Linked DNA regions of Homo sapiens: all the other regions are linked to region 2. Evidence: fine-mapped expression QTL. A gene starts in region 2. Each other region holds a variant in brackets. All regions are shown on one strand. Distances are from middle to middle.

The links. PIP is the estimated chance that this variant, and not a neighbour inherited with it, causes the effect. A credible set is the group of variants that fine-mapping cannot tell apart.
Region 1: its variant is the best candidate, but not a certain one, in a credible set for the expression of WDR45 in esophagus muscle (GTEx, PIP 0.83).
Region 3: its variant is the best candidate, but not a certain one, in a credible set for the expression of WDR45 in blood mononuclear cells (TOPMed, PIP 0.55).

The regions. Positions count from the first base shown.
Region 1 is chrX:49,180,171-49,185,889 of GRCh38, reverse strand. It overlaps PRICKLE3 (prickle planar cell polarity protein 3), which reads left to right. Exons shown (of 9, transcript NM_006150.5): 2 at 1,180-1,265; 3 at 1,973-2,156. Among named protein-coding and RNA genes, the nearest start is that of PRICKLE3, 3.3 kb to the left of the region's middle. RefSeq lists a silencer at 1,296-1,509 and a cis regulatory region at 1,118-1,618. The variant A/G (reference allele first, on the strand shown) is at 2,829.
Region 2 is chrX:49,077,459-49,083,066 of GRCh38, reverse strand. It overlaps WDR45 (WD repeat domain 45), which reads left to right and starts at 3,180. Exons shown (of 11, transcript NM_001029896.2): 1 at 3,180-3,316; 2 at 4,955-5,026; 3 at 5,156-5,230; 4 at 5,320-5,424. The coding sequence starts at 4,972. It also overlaps the pseudogene RNU4-52P. RefSeq lists silencers at 2,411-2,480, 2,723-3,017 and enhancers at 2,723-3,017, 2,729-3,229, 4,679-5,608.
Region 3 is chrX:49,055,505-49,061,223 of GRCh38, reverse strand. It overlaps CCDC120 (coiled-coil domain containing 120), which reads right to left and starts at 2,225. Exons shown (of 11, transcript NM_001163321.4): 1 at 2,129-2,225. The variant A/G (reference allele first, on the strand shown) is at 3,288.

The sequences.
Region 1 (5,719 bases), 100 kb before region 2:
AATCTCTGTCACCCAGGCTGGAGTGCAGTGGCGCTATCTCCGCTCACTGCAACCTCCGCCTCCTGGGTTCAAGCGATTCTCCTGCTTCAGCCTCCCATGTACCTGGGATTACAGACGCCCGCCACCGCGCCCGCCTAATTTTTGTATTTTTAGTAGAGACAAGGTTTCACCATGTTGGCCAGGCTGGTCTCGAACTCCTGACCTCAGGTGATCCGCCCACCTCGGCCTCCCAAAGTGCTGGGATTATAGGCGTGAGCCACCGAGCCTGGCCGACCTCCTCAGCTTCTAAAGGACACAGTACCTTGGAGGAATGTGCACGGAGGGATGGAGTCCTACACTCCTGGGATGCCGAAATGCTGAGAGTCAAGAGACTGGGATTTGGGGGGACAAGGCTTCCAGGGTTCCGCCTGAGCAAGGGAGTTTTTGACTTCTTAGATAGGAGGTTCTTTCACTTCCTTTGGAGTGGGTCTCTGACCTGGGAATGTGGGGTCTGGGTTTGATGGTCCGGAGAAGGAATAAATAGCCCTAGGATGGGATGGGTAAAGGCCAAGGTTTCTTGGGATGGGGGTTTCTGAATGGAGCAGGGGCCTCCTGAGATCCTGGGGAGGGTCCCCAGTTCCTTGGGTATCAGGGCATGAGGCCAGGGTTTAGGGGAGGAGCTCCTGAGCTTCTGAAGAGAGGGGCAGGGTTCACGTGGGGATCTCAAGGAAGAATGCGGTCTCGTCTCCTACCCTGTGGAACTGGAGTGCTGCTGGCGGCGTAGATGGAGAGGGAACCGGGATGAGGCCGGGGAGAGGATGCCCAGAGTAGGGGTTCTGTGCTCTAGTGGGGAGAGTACAATGAATTATAGGGGAGGTGCTTGAGCCCTGGAAGGATCTAAGGCTGGTGGGAGGTGTCTGAGGCTAGGGGCGGACGGGGAGGGGGGTCCGAGGCCAGCCTAGGAAGGGGAATTCCCTGAAAAGGGGACATATAAGGAGGTGGCTCCAACTGCCCCGCCTCTGCCTCGGTTGTGTCCCGCTCCCCCGCACTCTGGGCGCTGTCCCAGCCTGCCCAGCGCTGCCCAGGTAAGACAGGCCCCAGCGTGCGGTCGCGGGCAATGAAGTGGAGGGGCGGGCGTTGACTTCTCCTTCCCTGCTTCCGCGCCTCACCCGGCCCTGCATCTGCCCCCGCCCACTGCAGCCTCCAGAGGCAGAGGACCCAGACCGGGGCCAGCCCTGCAACTCCTGTAGGGAGCAGTGCCCTGGCTTCCTGCTCCACGGCTGGAGGTAAGTGGCGCCCCTAAAGGGCCTCGCCTTTGTCAGAGCTCCGCCTTCGGGGGGAAATCCAGGAGCCTTACGCCACGCCCCTACGCTTGAGCTCCGCCTACAGAGGGATCTCAGTTGGGAAAAGAGCCTCAGGCTCAGATTCAGAGCCCCGCCCCCTGACTCATTCCCCAAAGTCCTTTCCCAGGAGAGCTCCACCCACTACGCAGCCCCGCCCCCAGAAGTGTTCTCCCGTAGCCGCGGAGTCGCATCCCTAGGGAGATTCTTCGTCTCTAACTCTGAGCGCCGCCCTCTGGCCTCCAGCACCCCTCTTAGACTCAGACCTACTCTCCCAGGCCCAGCGTCCTATCCTCCTGCTGGAGCCCTGCACCCAATAAACAGAGCCTACAGCCCCCAGACTCAGGCCCTACCCACAGGCTCAGAGCCCACAAGTTCAGAGCCTCACCACAGGTTAGATGCCTGTGTCTAGTGAAAGTTCCCCCACAAAGCATCCCACTCCCCACGACCTGTCCTCTGGCTCACAGCCCAGCCACACCCTGGCTCATAGGCCCACCTCCTGCAGCCCTGCCCCCAGGCCCAGATCCCTGTCCCTGCTCACAGACCTTTGGTGGTGATAATCTGTATGTCCCCGCTCCTCCATTGGACCTGGGCTGCCGAGGGGTTCGGGTGGGCAACTCCTTAGTAATTGACCCCCATCCCGGCCCCCTCAGAAAGATCTGCCAGCATTGCAAATGCCCGCGGGAGGAGCATGCAGTGCACGCGGTGCCTGTGGACCTGGAACGCATCATGTGTCGGCTAATCTCGGACTTCCAGCGCCACTCCATCTCCGACGACGACTCAGGCTGTGCATCGGAGGAGTATGCCTGGGTGCCCCCAGGCCTTAAGCCGGAGCAGGTGACCAGAGGCCAGCCCTCCACTCTTGCTGTCCAGTGGGTGCACACTAATGCTCACACACACACACACACACTCAGGTGGGAACCTATTTCTGGGGCTACGCTAGAGTGTGCAGTCAGACCGAGGGTCCTTCTGGCCCCTCTGTGATGGAAGAGTGGTCAGCCCCCCATACCTTGGGTGACTGAGGGACCAGTTCCTCAGGGCCTGTTCACCCCAATCCTATTATTTTTGATTGATTGTTTTTGAGACAGGGTCTCACTCTGTTGCCCACCACAGCCTCCCTTGTAGCTGGGACTGCAGGTGCATGCCACCCTGCCTGGCTATTTTTAAAATTTTTTTGTAGAGACAGGGTCTCCCTATGTTGCCCAGGCTGATGTTGAACTCCTGGGCTCAAGTGATCCTGCCTCGGCCTCCCAAAGTGCTGGGATTACAAGAGCAAGCCACCATGCGTGGCCCCACTCCCTATTCTACCCTCCCAGCACTTCATTCACCACATGACTTCATTGATTGACTCATTCAACACATAGTTATGGGGCACCTACTGCATGTGAGACACTGTTCTAGGCACTGAGGACACAGCAATGAGCAAAACACAAAATAACATATCTGCCCACGGGCACGGTGGCTCACGCCTGTAATCCCAGCACTTCGGGAGGCTGAGGCGGGCGGATT[A/G]CTTGAGGTCAGGAGTTTGAGACCAACCTGGCCAACATGGCAAAACCCCGTCTCTACTAAAAGTACAAAAATTAGCCAGGTGTGGTGGTGCACACCTGTAATCCTAGCTACTCAGGAGGCTGAGGCAGGAGAATTGTTTGAACCCAGGAAGCGGAGGTTGCAGTGAGCTGAGATCGTGCCACTGCACTCCAGCCTGGGCAACAGAGTGATACTTCTCAAAAAAAAAAAAAAAAAAATCTGCCCAGGCAGAGGGTAGATTCTGGAAAGGAGGAACACCCAATAAGCAAACCTGTAAATATATGTCAGATGGTGTAAGGGCTATGGAATTAAAAAGCAAGGAAGGTGGGGTGAAGAAAGAGAGAGGGAAGGAGAGAGATGCTAGAATTGTAAATAGGGTGCCCAGAATAAGCCTCTGTGAGAATTTAATGGTTGAGCTGCCCGAAAGGAGGTGAGAAGTGAGCCATGCAGACATCTAAGGTTACAGCGATTCACACAGGCAAAGGGCATGGCTAATGCCAAGGCCCTGAGGCAGGCGTGTGCTTGGCATATGTAAGGGATGGCAAGGCCAGTGCTGCTGGCGCAGAGTGAGCAAGGGGGAGACCAGCTGGAGATGAGGTCAGAGATGTGGCAGGGGCTATGGAGAGGACTTTGGCTTTGCCTGTGAATGAAGGGAAGTCGCAAGAGGGTTGTCAGCAGAAGACAGCCTGGAGGAATAAGGGTGGAATCAGGAGACCAGTGAGGAACCTGATGATGATGGCACTGGCAGTGCAAGGAGTTATATATATATGGAGAGAGAGACAGACAGACAGACAGAAAGGCCGGCATGGTGGCTCACACCTGTAATCCCAGCACTTTGGGAGGCCGAGGCGAGTGGATCACTTGAGGTCAGGAGTTTGAGACCAGCCTGGCCAACATAGTGAAACCCCATCTCTACTAAAAATACAAAAATTAGTCTGGCATGGTGGCAAATGTCTGTAATCCCAGCTACTCGGGAGGCTGAGCCACAAGAATTCCTTGAACCCAGGAGGCAGAGGTTGCAGTGAGCTGAGATTGCACCACTGCACTCCAGCCTGGGCGACAGAGCAAGACCCTGTCTCAAAAAAAAAAAAAATAGGCTGGGTGCAGTGGTTCACGCCTGTAATCCCACCACTTTGGGAAGCCTAGGCAGGCAGATCGCCTGAGGTCGGGAGTTTGAGACCAGCCTGACCAACATGGAGAAACCCCGTCTCTACTAAAAATACAAAAAAATTAGCCAGGCGTGGTGGCACATGCCTGTAATCCCAGCTACTTGGAAGGCTGAAGCAGGAGAAGCGCTTGAACCCGGGAGGCGGAGGTTTCGGTGAGCCCAGATCATGCCATTGCACTGCAGCCTGGGCAACAAGAGCAAAATTCCGTTTAATAAATAATTATTTAATATATATATATGTGTGTGTATATATATATACACATATATATATACGTATATAGATACACGCGTATATATATACGTATATATACGTGTATATATATACACATATACGTATATATATACACATATATACGTATATATACACATATATATACACATATGTATACATCTATATACATATATATAAAATAATTATTTTACGTATATAATTTACGTAAATAATATACGTATAATAATTATACGTGTATATATATATATATATATACACACACACATATATATATATGGGGGGGGGTCTCACTCTGTCTCCCAGGTTTGAGTGCAGTGGCTCAATCACAGCTCACTGCAGCCTCAACTTCCTGAGCTCAAGTGATCCTCCCACCTCAGCCTCCCAAGTAGCTGGGACTACAGGCACGCATCATCACGCCTGGATGATTTTTGTATTTTTTGTAGAGATGGGGTTTTGCCATGTTGCCCAGGGTGGTCTTGGACTCCTGGGCTCAAGCTATCTTCCCCTCTGGGCCTCCTAAAGTGCTGGGATTACAGGTGTGATCCACAGCACCCAGCCTATATTTTGGAAGTAGCACTCAGAGGATTTGCTTGTGGGGGTGGGAGAAAGAGGAGTGAAAGATGACCCTGAGGATAGGTAGATTAACTGATGTGGGAGAGGCCAAGACAGGAGCAGTTTGAGGGGTAAGAGCATAAGTTTGGTTGTGGCCATCTGGAGTTTGAGATGCCTGTTAGACATCTAAATAGCCACATTGCCTGGAACTCAAGGGATAAGTTACAGAGCTGGACGTATGTGTTTGTCATTATGTGTCACAGGCTGGAGGTGACACATTAGCCAGCCAAGTAGATGATATTTACAGCCATAAGGTTGAATGTAATTCCCAAGAAATTGAATGTAGACAGAGGCAAGAGGACCAAGAGCTGAGTCCTAGGATCCTCCTGCATTTAGGGGTCAGCTAGTTGAGGAGGAGCCAAAACAGGGACAAAGAAGGAGCAGCCAATAAGGTGGAAGGAAAACCTGGACTGTGTGGTGTCCTGGAAGCCAAGGGAAGAAAGTGTTTCCAGGAAGAGAGAGTGGTCAGCTCGGTGCAGTGCTACCATCATCAAGTCTGATGACGACTGAGACCTGAACAATGATTTTAACAATGGGGAAGTCATGGATGACCTTGACAGCTTTGGAAGAGGGATGGGAGCGGAAGCCTGCCTCAAGTAGGCTCAAGAGAGATTGGAAGGACAGGAAGTGGAGTGAACACAAGTGCTCATAACTTTTTGAGGAATTTTCCTGTAAAGGGAAAAAGAAAAGTGGATCAGTAGACTGGGCGCGGTGGCTCACACCTGTAATCCCAGCACTTTGGGAGGCCAAGGCAGGCGGATCACTTGAGGTCAGGAGTTCGAGACCAGCCTGGCCAACATGGTGAAACCCTGTCTCTACTAAAAATAAAAAATTAGCTGGGCATAGTGGTATGCCTGTAAT
Region 2 (5,608 bases):
CTCTACTAAAAATACAAAAATTAGCCGGGCGTGGTGGTGCATGCCTATAATCCCAGCTACTTGGGAGCCTGAGGCAGGAGAATCGCTTGAACCCGGGAGGCGGAGGTTGCAGTTAACCGAGATCGCCCCACTGCACTCCAGCTTGGATGACAGAGCGAGACTCCGTCTCAAAAAAAAAAAAAAAAATTAGCTGGGCGTGGTGGTGCATGCCTGTAATCTCAGTTACTCAGGAGGCTAAGGCAGGAGAATCACTTGAACCCAGGAAGCAGAGGTTGCAGTGAGCCGAGATCGTGCCACTGCAGTCCAGCCTAGGTGACAGAGTGAGACTCCATCTTAAAAAAAAAGAAAGAAAGAAAAAGAAAAACCAAGAGAGTGAGAGGAAGAAATTGTGGGTTTCACTAGAAAGTCACAGGAGAGGGCAGAGAAGTGATTGCTGGTTTGGCAAGATTATTATTCATCAGTGGTCTGGTTAAGAGCAGTCCCAAAGACACAGGAGTGACAAACACCAAATTGAATTGAGTTGAATATGGTCTGGGACATGAGGAAGTGGAGTCTGAAGAAAGCCAGATGATTGGCCTTGTTGAGGAGCACAGTAATGGAATCATGCCAAGGGGAGTATATAGGGCCAAAATTCACAAGTAAATATATACATGGGAATTGACGACACAGTATCTGAAACAACCTAGGCAGCCATCAGTTGGGGAAGGGCTGAACAATGCTACATAATATCATGAACCAGTTAAAAAGGATGAGTTAAAAAGATGTTCTTATATATTAATATATGAAAAAACAGAAGCATCAAAACAATACTTCAAAAAAAGTAAAGGGGGGATTTCATCAATGTGAAACCCTGATTGTATTAAAAGTATGAGATTTCTCTGTATTTTTTCTTTAATATTCAGTCTTCATAGACTGTCAAAAATTGCCAATGCCGACTATATTGCAAGTCTTCGGGGCGGGGTATTGGGAAGTTTCCAATTAGCAATATCCACACCTTGGCTAAACCTCATTGGCTATGATACTGCCACTGCAAAAAGCATATTTCTTTTTTTTCAAGAATATTCTTTTTTTTTTTTTTTTTTTGGAGACAGGGTTTCCCTCTGTTGCCCAGGCTGGAGTGCAGTGGCGCGATCTTGGCTCACTGCAACCTCTGCCTTCTGGGTTCCAATGATTCTCCTGCCTCAGCCTCCCAAGTAGGGGACTTACAGGTGCCCGCCACCACGCCCGGCTAATTTTTTGTATTTTAGTAGAGAGGAGGTTTCACCGTGTTACCCAGGGTGGTCTCAAACCCCTGAGCTCAGGCAATCCACCTGCCTCGGCCTCCCAAATTGCTGGGATTACAGGCATGCACCACCATGCCCAGCCCTTTTTTTTTGAGACGGGAATTTCGCTCGTCTCCCAGGCTGGAGTGCAATGGCAGGATCTGGGCTTGCTGCAACCTCCGCCTCCTAGGTTTAAGTGGTTCTCCTGCCTCAGCCTCCCCAGTAGCTAGGATTACAGGCGCGTGTCACCACGCCCGGCTTTTTTTTTTTTTTTCGAGACAGAGTCTCACTCTATTACCCAGGCTGGAGTGCAGTGGTGCGATCTCTGCTCACTGCAACCTCCTCCTCCTGGCTTCAAGTGATTCTCCTGCCTCAGCCTCCCGAGTAGCTGGGACTACAGGCACGCACCACCATGCCTGGCTAACTTTTTGTATTTTTAGTAGAGAGGGGGTTTCACCATGCTGGCCAGGCTGATCTCGAACTCCTGACCTCATGATCTGCCTGCTTCGGCCTCCCAAAGTGCTGGGATTACAGGCGTGAGCCACCGCGCCCAGCCTATTTATTATTTCTTAATGTAAAGTTTAATTAAAAATCCTTCCAGCCGGGCGCAGTGGCTCACGCCTGTAATCCCAACACTTTGGGGGGCCGAGGCAGGCGGATCACCTGAGGTCAGGAGTTCAAGACCAGACTGATCAACAGGGAGAAACCCGGTCTCTACTAAAAATACAAAATTAGCTGGGCGTGGTGGCACATGCCTGTAATCCCAGCTACTTGGGAGGCTGGGGAGGCTGAGGCAGAAGAATCCCTTGAACCCGGGAGGCGGAGGTTGTGGTGAGCCAAGATCGCGCTAATTGCACTCCAGCCTGGGCAAAAAGAGCCAAACTCTGTTAATCAAAAAAAAAAAAAAAAAAAAAAATTCCTTCCAGTATGCATATAATTTGGGGCCTTTTTTTAAAAGCTTTATCATAGGTAGGACCTCTTTTTTTTTTTTTTTTTAACCCAAAGCATTCATACCTTTTACTATCAAAAAGCTATTTTGTATTTTGTAAAAATAAAAGCAGAGGCCGGGCGTGGTAGCTTAAGCCTGTAATCCCAGCACTTTGGGAGGCCGAGGTGGGTGGATAACCTGAGGTCAAGAGTTCGAGACCAGCCTGACCAACATGGTGAAACCCCGTCTCTACTAAAAATACAAAAATTAGATGGGCGTGGTGGCGCACGCCTGCAGTCCCAGCTACTCCGGAGGCTGAGGCAGGATAACCGTTTGAACCCGGGAGGCGGAGGTTGCAGTGAGCCGAGATCGCGCCACTGCACTCCAGCCTGGGAGACAGAGCGAGACTCTGTCTCAGAAAACAAAACTAAACAAAACACAAAAGACAAAACTCAGAGCTGGCGGGGTTGGGGGGACAGGGTGGGGAGAAAGAAAGCGAAATCTGTTCCTTGGCTTCCCGGAGCCAAGGAGGTTTCTCCACTTTCAAGGTCTCCAGGTCCGCCCCCGCCTGTAACCCCCAGCGCCGCCCCTCTGGAAGCCTGGGAGGACTGTGTGTTGCGAACCGGGGCGGCTACTCTCGGCCGCCGCGGAGGTCCGCGTCTTGTTAGCAGGGAAGGTTTACTCCCCCATTGTGGGTGACCAAGGGGCTGAGGGCTTGGCCGGTTTCGCTTTGCTGGGGGCAAGGCACGCTCTCTCTCCCCACCCTTCCGGGTTCCCTCAGACAGTCTCGGCCTTGAGGAACCCCCTTCGCCTCCGGTCCCCCAGCCAACCTTCCTCCGCTCCCCGCGCCCTCCCCGGAGAACCCCACTGTCACTCGCGATGCTCCGAAGACCCGGGAACTAGGCGAGGAAGGCGGTGGCCGCCTTTTTCCAGCTGGGGTGAGTCATTTCCTGCGACAGGCTCCCTCCCCCGGAAGTAGGGCCTGATGTAAACACCCGAGCCGGGCTCCAAGGCCCGGGAGGTCAGAAAACCGGGCCGCGGGCGGCACCGACAGCTGGGGCCCGGGTCAGGGACACGCGGAGGTCAGGCCGGTGAAGGCGGCAGGAAGCTGGAGCACGATCCCAGGGTTGGTTGGGTCTGGGGGAGGCTGGAAGTCTTTCGAGTAGGGGTCTAAGGCAGAGGTCTTGAGTGGGTGCTGGCGTTGGAAGGAGCATGCGGCTGGTCTTGGGAGAGGGGCGAGGCATCCCGGACAGAGTCTTGGAATGGAGGTGCAAAAAAGGGGTGTTGAAAGTTGGAGCTGTCCAGAGAATAACTCTAAGGCAGAGCTGTCCAAAGAAAGAGCATGAGGCATTCCAGTGGAGGGTGTAACTGAAAGAAAGGAAGGAGATTTGGACTCTTGGAGGATGGGGGAGGGAGTATGTCTGGCCAGAGTTATTGGGGAGTTGAGGATTTGAAGGGAAGTTGGGGGCTCTATGGCAGTAATCTTAGTAGGGGACTGCGCAGGCATCTTAGGGGTTGAGGTTCTCCTAGGTAGGAGTTTTGGGTGGTTTGTTTTGGGCAAGGGTCTTAGAAGGCAAGGGTGCCCTGGGGCGGGGTCTTGGATAGGGGTCTAGAGGGGGAATCTTAGGAGGATGGGGGGGGTTCCTGGGGTTGGGTCCAGGCCAGGTTATGTTGTAGTCAAGGACAGCAGAACACAAGGAAGGAGATGTCCCAGGGGTGGAAAATTTAGAGTGCTAGGGGGAATCCTAGGGTAGAGTCCCCAGGGCATAAGCCAATCTAAGGGAATGTCTAGGCTGGCCCTGAAGGGTAGTTACCAAGGCATGAGAAGGGGTCATCCCAAGGTAGGCATCCTGAAGGAGTTTGGGGAAGCCGGTTGAGGGGGAAAGGTGTGAGAGGACTCTGGGGTGGTCAAATAGGTTGGGGTACAGTTAGAAGGGTATGAGCAGAGGAGTTCCTGGGGATGGCAGACCAAGCATAGCAGTCCCAGGGCCAAGTCAGGGAGGTACAAGAAGTGCATCTCCTAGCCCACTTTTGTCTATTTATTGAGAGAGTCCGGTGCTAGGTCAGGTTTGAAGATGAGAAATGGGTTGGGAGTGGTTCCAGGCCATGTCTGGCATTGGGATCAAGATTGGCTGGCGGTGGGGAGGAGATATCACGGGGGCACCCCCTATCACATTACTTCCTGACAAGTCAGTGAGGGCCAGCATGTAAAGAGGAGGTGTGGGGTCCACGTCAGTGTGGGCCTGGAGCTTGCCAAACCTGAAAGAAGGAGGGTTCCTGGCCATGTTGTTTGGGATCTTGGGAGCTTAGAGCAGAGACCCTGGGACTCTCTGTTTTTATCTTTTTCTTCCCCCCGAGACGGAGTCTCGCTCTGTCACCCAGGCTGGAATGCAATGGCTCGATTTCGGCTCACTGCCATCTCAGCCTCTCGGGTTCAAGCAATTCTCCTGCCTCAGCCTCCTGAGTAGCTGGGATTATAGGTGCCCCCCACCACACCCGGCTAACTTTTGTATTTTTATTAGAGACGGGATTTCACCATGTTAGCCAGGCTGATCTCAAACTCCTGACCTCAGGTGATCCACCCGCCTTGGCCTCCCAAAGTGCTGGGATTACAGGCATAAGCCACCACGCCTGGCCTGTTTTTATCTTTTTTGCAGTCACTCCAGAGTCAGTAGTTAGCAGAGTAGGAGGAGGAAATCAGGTGAGGCAGAACTTGGAGGGGAGATTCCAGGACTCTTCTCATCTTTATCCCATTTGTATGCAGAGGAACAATCCTGCACCATGACTCAACAGCCACTTCGAGGAGTGACCAGCCTGCGTTTCAACCAAGACCAAAGTGAGAGAGGATTGGGCCTGTACCCTTGTGGGAGGAAGCGAGGAAAAGAGGGGTCAGAAGTGGGCCATGGGCCCCCAGCTTCCTACCTGGGCATTCTTTAAGGCAGTCTGGATTCCTTCCATCCCCCAGGCTGCTTTTGCTGCGCCATGGAGACAGGTGTGCGCATCTACAACGTGGAGCCCTTGATGGAGAAGGGGCATCTGGGTGAGCTGTTGGCAGGGGAGGGGCAATGGGCAGAAGAGCTGGGCTGGGCGTTGGCTCCCACCTCCACTGACACCCTGGTCCCTGTCCAGACCACGAGCAGGTGGGCAGCATGGGCTTGGTGGAGATGCTGCACCGCTCCAACCTTCTGGCCTTGGTGGGCGGTGGTAGTAGTCCCAAGTTCTCAGAGATCTCAGGTAAGTGCCCTCATCCTGCCCTTTGGCCCAGATTTCTCGGATTCCTGGCCTCCCACAGGCACCCCAAGGTACTGGCAGATGAAGACGTCAGAGTACTTCAGAGTCACACAGAGAGGAGGCCTACAGCTTGGAAGTCATGGATCTTATAGCTTGAGAAGCTTGGTGCTTTGTTTTCATTTTAAAA
Region 3 (5,719 bases), 22 kb after region 2:
GTGTAGGGAAGTCCTCCTGCTGGGATTTGTGAGAAGCAAAGTCCACAGCTGCAAATAACGAACCACCTGCCTCCTGCCTCCTTCTCTGCCCCCGATGGCTCAGCTGACCATGGAACCTGCCTTGGCTGGCCACCCCTCCTCTGGAGTTTGCTCCCTTCCTTCCACATCATGCTCAGTCCCCAGCTGGGCAGCTGAGTGACATCACCTCCCACCACCTGGCCTAACCTAGGTGGCAGGTGACTGGGAGGGCTTTATGGGGCCACAGAGCTCCATTATCACCTACCTTGAAGTCGGCAGCTTGTCATGACATGTTAGCCTGGTGTGAGGAAGACCCAGCCAACCAAGGAGGCATGGGTTCAAGCCCCTTCCCCATCTGTGTATTGTGGGGTGAGGCCAAGCTGCTTGTAAGGTGTCATGTTTCTCTGCAGTCCTCCTGCCTGCCCCATAGGGCCTGTACCCCTCTCTTGAAGCAGTGGTGCCCTGCCTTCAACAGCAGGGGTGGGGATCAGTCCCTAAAGCCTTTTGACAAACCCAGGCCCCACATCCCCACTCATCTAAGGTCTGACACTTCCCAGCATGGCAGGGGTTCCTCCACATCCCAGATCACTGGGGCTCCAACTTTCCCAGCCCCCATTTAGGCCCAAGGAACTCTCACAGGGTTCCCTGGAACCTTCCTTTACCCCCACAGGAACCCAACTCCATCCACGGTCCCCCTTGCCAGCATTGGTCCCAATCCAATCCCAATTCCATGCTGGGCTGCTTCGATTCTTTTTTTTTTTTTTTTTTTTTTTTTTTTGGAGATAGGGCCTGGCTCTGTCACTTAGGCTGGAATGCAGTGGTGGCACGATCTTGGCTCACTGCAGCCTCCACTTCCCAGGTTCAAGCAATTCTCCCACTTCAGCCTCCAAAGTAGCTGGGATTACAGGTGCACGCCACCATGCCTGGCTACTTTTGTATTTTTAGTAGAAATTGGGTTTCACCATGTTGGCCAGGCTGGTCTCGAACTCCTGACCTCAGGTGATCCACCCGCCTCGGCCTCCCAAAGTGCTGGGATTACATGCGTGAGGCACTGCACCCAGCCAATCCTTTCTTCTCTAATTTCTCAGAGCGTCCTGGAAGTCCAGACAGGGTCCACACAGGAACCCCAACTCCTCCCTATCAGCCCGACCTCGGGGGGACATAGTTAGAGTATGAGTCATGGGGTCACTGGGCAGGCTAGACACAGTCAACGCCCCACACCCCCACACCCAGTTCCTAAGCTTCTGCCTCCGCTCACCTGCCCTCTGCATACTTGCCTTGGGGCCTGGAGCTGCCTCATCCCCGCCCAGATGGCGAGAAAGGGATCCCAGCAAACCCCTCCCCAGCACACCCCCACACCAACCCCAGGTCTCCCCCTACCAGTGACCCCATGGCCCCCATCCTGTCCCAGGGACCAGCTGCAGCGGGAGAGCAGTAGAGGGCACCCCCCACACCCAGAGGCGGGCCCGGCAGGTTTTTCAGGTCTGCCATTCTGACACCACAGCCGAGAAAGAAATTCCTGGCTGTAATAACTGTTTACAACCAAGATACCTCACCTGGGTGGCACCCCAACAGTTGGGGGGTCATTTCCACATCCTGCCACTATTAGAGCAAATACAAAATCTCAATGTCTGGGCCATTACCCTCCCCAGAGCCCCTGCTTCCTCCACTGCAGTGAACAAATCAGGCATAGGCAGGCAGGTGCCTGAGTAATGGTTTCTTAGTAGCCCAGTCTGGTCTTTCTTGGAGAGCTGGGCCCTGGGTTGGGGGAGGACAGAGGCTACTCCTGGCGGGGAGGAAAGGAAGCAGGGATAGGGTGGAGAAGGGGGGACTCATACTTCTCTTTTCCCCGATCCCTCCTCGTCCATTTCCGGCCGGGAATCGGCTTGGTGCCAGGAAAGGAAATTGGTGTTTTGGGCTTTGCCCCTGTCCTCAGGCCCTCCATTCTCACTGCCCCCCTACCCCCCCACCACCACCCTGCCCTGCATTGTTGGTGTGCCTCTCCCACAGACCTAGCTCTCTACCGAAGGGAACTTCAGTACACCCTGCCCCAGCTCCCCAATGCCCTTATCCCCCTCGCACCCTGGGCCCACTGCTCCCAGGTGCTCACCAATGCCAGAGAGTGCTGTGGGGTAGCCTCAGATACCTCAAAAATAGTTGTCTCGACCAGGCCCTGGCTCCGGCTGGTAGTGGCAGTCAGCAGCAGTGGCAGATGCCTTGGCCACCTCCCACTAGGTAATGGCCCAGCCTACCTGGCCAGGAACTGGGCCGGCCCACACCTTTTAACCCTTGCCTGTCTGCCACCAGGACTAGGGTCACCCCTGGGGGCAGTTTCAGGGCCAGGTCCACTCAGGGTGCTCAGCATGTCTAAGAAGACAGCCTGGGCCAGGCAGGGTAGCTGGTGCCTGTAATCTCAGCACTTTGGGAGGCTGAGGTGGGAGGATTGCTTGAAGCCAAGAGTTCAAGGCCAGACTGTGCAACATAATGAGACCCCCATCTCTACAAAAATTTTTTTTAAAACTGGCCAGGCATGGAGGCCTGTGCCTCCTCACCCCGTACACTTAGCAGAAAACTGGGAAGAAGGGCTGAGAGTGGTGGGAGTAGCAGCTGCCTCTCCTACTGCCCAAATTCCCAGAGGATTAGACGCTGCCCACCCAAGGGGCAACTTGGATCTGGGCCATAGAGGTGTGGGGAGCTGTAAAGTACATGGGAGGCTTCGGGTGTAAACTGAGTTTTTGTGTCTTGGCACTAAGCATCACATTCTGAGGCCCCTACCCTTTCCTCCCAGGGCAAGGCAGTGGTAGAAGGCCTTGGGGCAATTCCCACCCTCACTGGGGAATAATAGTTTCCCAAGTTGGGGACAGAGGAAGTCAACCTTTCTAAGGAGAGGTCAGGTCTCAAGATCCTTCTGTGGCTCCAGAAGAAATAATCTCAATAAATCAAGCACAACTTACACCCTACAAAACACTTATGGGTTTTGATCCCTCTTGGTTCCTACAAATGTAGCAGGATGGCACAGACCCAGCCTCCTCACAGCCATTTTATAGATGCAGAAGCTGAGGCCTGGAAAGGTGAAGAGGCCTGATTCAGATCACAGTGGCAGAAGAGCAGGTGAAATCAGAATTTCCGGGGGCTGGGTCCTGGCTGGGAGGCAGACAGAGGCTACTCCTGCAAGTGGGAAGGAGAAGTAGGGAAGGGGGCTCATGCTTCTTCACATCCATGCTGGGTCTCTCTTCTTCAGAGAGTCAGGCTTCATGCCAGAGAAGGAA[A/G]TGAGAGCTTTGAGTCCTTACGACGTACTGTCCCTGCCTCCCCTCACCCCGCCCACCACCACCACCATCACCACCACCACCATCACCACTACCACCTGAGCTCTGGGCCAGTCCCGGCACACAGCACACATCCTGTGCTCCATTCAGGACCATCTGCTCTGTGACCCAGGGCCCAAGCCCTACCCAGACCCCTGCAGCAGCCCACACCATGACCTGAAGTGAGAAAAGCTGCAGATGGGCTGAGCCTAGAGAGGAGCTCACTCTGAATCAGCAATGCCCCAGACTCATACTATTAAGGCCTCCCGCCATCCCTGCCCACCTTTCTTCCTGGGTGTGAGATTTCCAGCATGGAACACAAAGGCCCCTTTCATCGCCCTCCCCACTTCACTGCCTGGGGCGGGCAGTGGTAAGGTGGGCATTGGGGAGTGTCCTCTCGGCCACAGCCTCTCCCACCTCTTATGGGCCACCAAAGATGTTGGGAAGTGAGACAGTAATAAAATCAGAGCCAAGAGGGATGAGAATCTGGCTGGCAATGTAGATTGAGTCTCAAAGCTTAGGTCTCCTCATCTGTAAAATGGGTAAAAGGTGGTTACAGAGACAATGGAGGCCCCAAATAACTTTGAAAGGCATTTCAAAGTGCAAGGAAACACACCATGTCATTAATGACTCTTACTAACAACAATTAATACACTCACACAGAGGTGGGCTGTTGTGGGGGTAACTGGGGGAGAGCAGGTAACTGGACCTCCTGGGCCAGGCAGACAAATGGGGCAGTCACTAACACACATCATTGCCCTGGTCCATGACTTTTAATAGCCTCGAAGAGGACCCAACCTCTAAGCCCTACCCCAGCTGGGCCCTGGGCCTCACGTGACCCTGCTGTCACTAGTAAATGGTGAGTCTGGGATTCAACCCAGCTCTGCCACTTACTAGCTGTGTGACTGCTTGAACAAGTCACTTAACCTCTCTGTGCCTCTCTGTCAATTGGGGACGATGATAACAGTATGTACCTCACGGGGCTATTGTGAGCATTAAATCAGTTAATACATTTAAAGCTTGTGCAGAACAGTGCCTGGTAAGAGCTCAGTGTATGTTGGCTGTCACAGTTACAAGTATTCTTCCCCACAGGAAGTCAGGAATCAAGTAGATACATTCAGACACATTTTTTCCAGACAGAGCTGGTGTCCTTCAGTCTCACTTGATACATTTGAAACAGTTGTTTTTCCTCAGATAACTTGTCTGAACTCTTGCTATCCAAAATCAGAGACTAAATGTATTCAGACGCAATTTTTTTTTTTTTTTTTTTTTTTTGAGACGGAGTCTCACCCTGTCACCCAGGCTGGAGTGCAGTGGCATGATCTCGGCTCACTGCAACCTCCACCACCCGGGTTCAAGCAGTTCCCTGCTTCAGCCTCCCGAGTAGCTGGGATTACAGGTGCGTGCCACCACACCCAGCTAATTTTTGTATTTTTAGTAGAGACGGGGTTTCACCATCTTGGCCAGGGTGGGCTCGAACTCCTGACCTCGTGATCCACCCGCCTCAGCCTCCCAAAGTGCTGGGATTACAGGCGTGAGCCACCGCGCCCGGCCTCAGATGCATTTTTGAGACAGAACTGGTATCCCTCAGCTTCCAAATCCCACTTGCTATCTAGACACGGTACCCTCCCTGCTCACCAAATGAGACATATTTGAAACAGAGCTGTTTCCCTCATGATCCAACCTCTCCTTTCTCAACATCAAAAATGCAGGAACCAAATACATTCAGAGAAATTGTCTGAACTCTCACCATCCAAATGCAAGAACTGAATGGATTCAGAAACATTTTTGAGATACGACTGGTATCCCTCATTCTTGAACTTTCCTTACCCTCCAAACAAAATGCAGGAACCATTTACATAACAGGGTACCCTCACTATCCCAACTCTTGTCCCTGGAGCTCAGGAAAGTTCATAGATTTGGATACATTTTTTAGTTAGTCATTATTCTTCATTATCTCAATTTTCCCTACTCACTATGTAAGATGTGAAAACAAAATACCTTCAAATAACTTGGTAGGTTTCACTGTCTGAACTTCGGGCACTCTCCCTCTCAGAATTCAGGTACCAAATAGATTGGGAAAGTGAGGAATGCTTGTTTTGTTATCAATAGGTTTGGATAGATTTTCAGGATAAGATAGGTCTGGCATCTTGTTATTCAAACTCACTAGTCTCTATGAGAAATGCAGGAACAAAACCCAATTGAGTAACACATTACCCTCTAGCTATCCAAGTTCTCCCCATCATCCTCAGAATCAAGGAGATTCGGACAATGAGGGGAACACTGCATTATTGTTGTTACTGTTACCACTGGATAGGCCTGATTCTTAAATCCAGTGACTGCCTGGCCTTCTCCCCCAAGACAAGCCCCACAGAGGTGGAGTGGACTTAGCACCA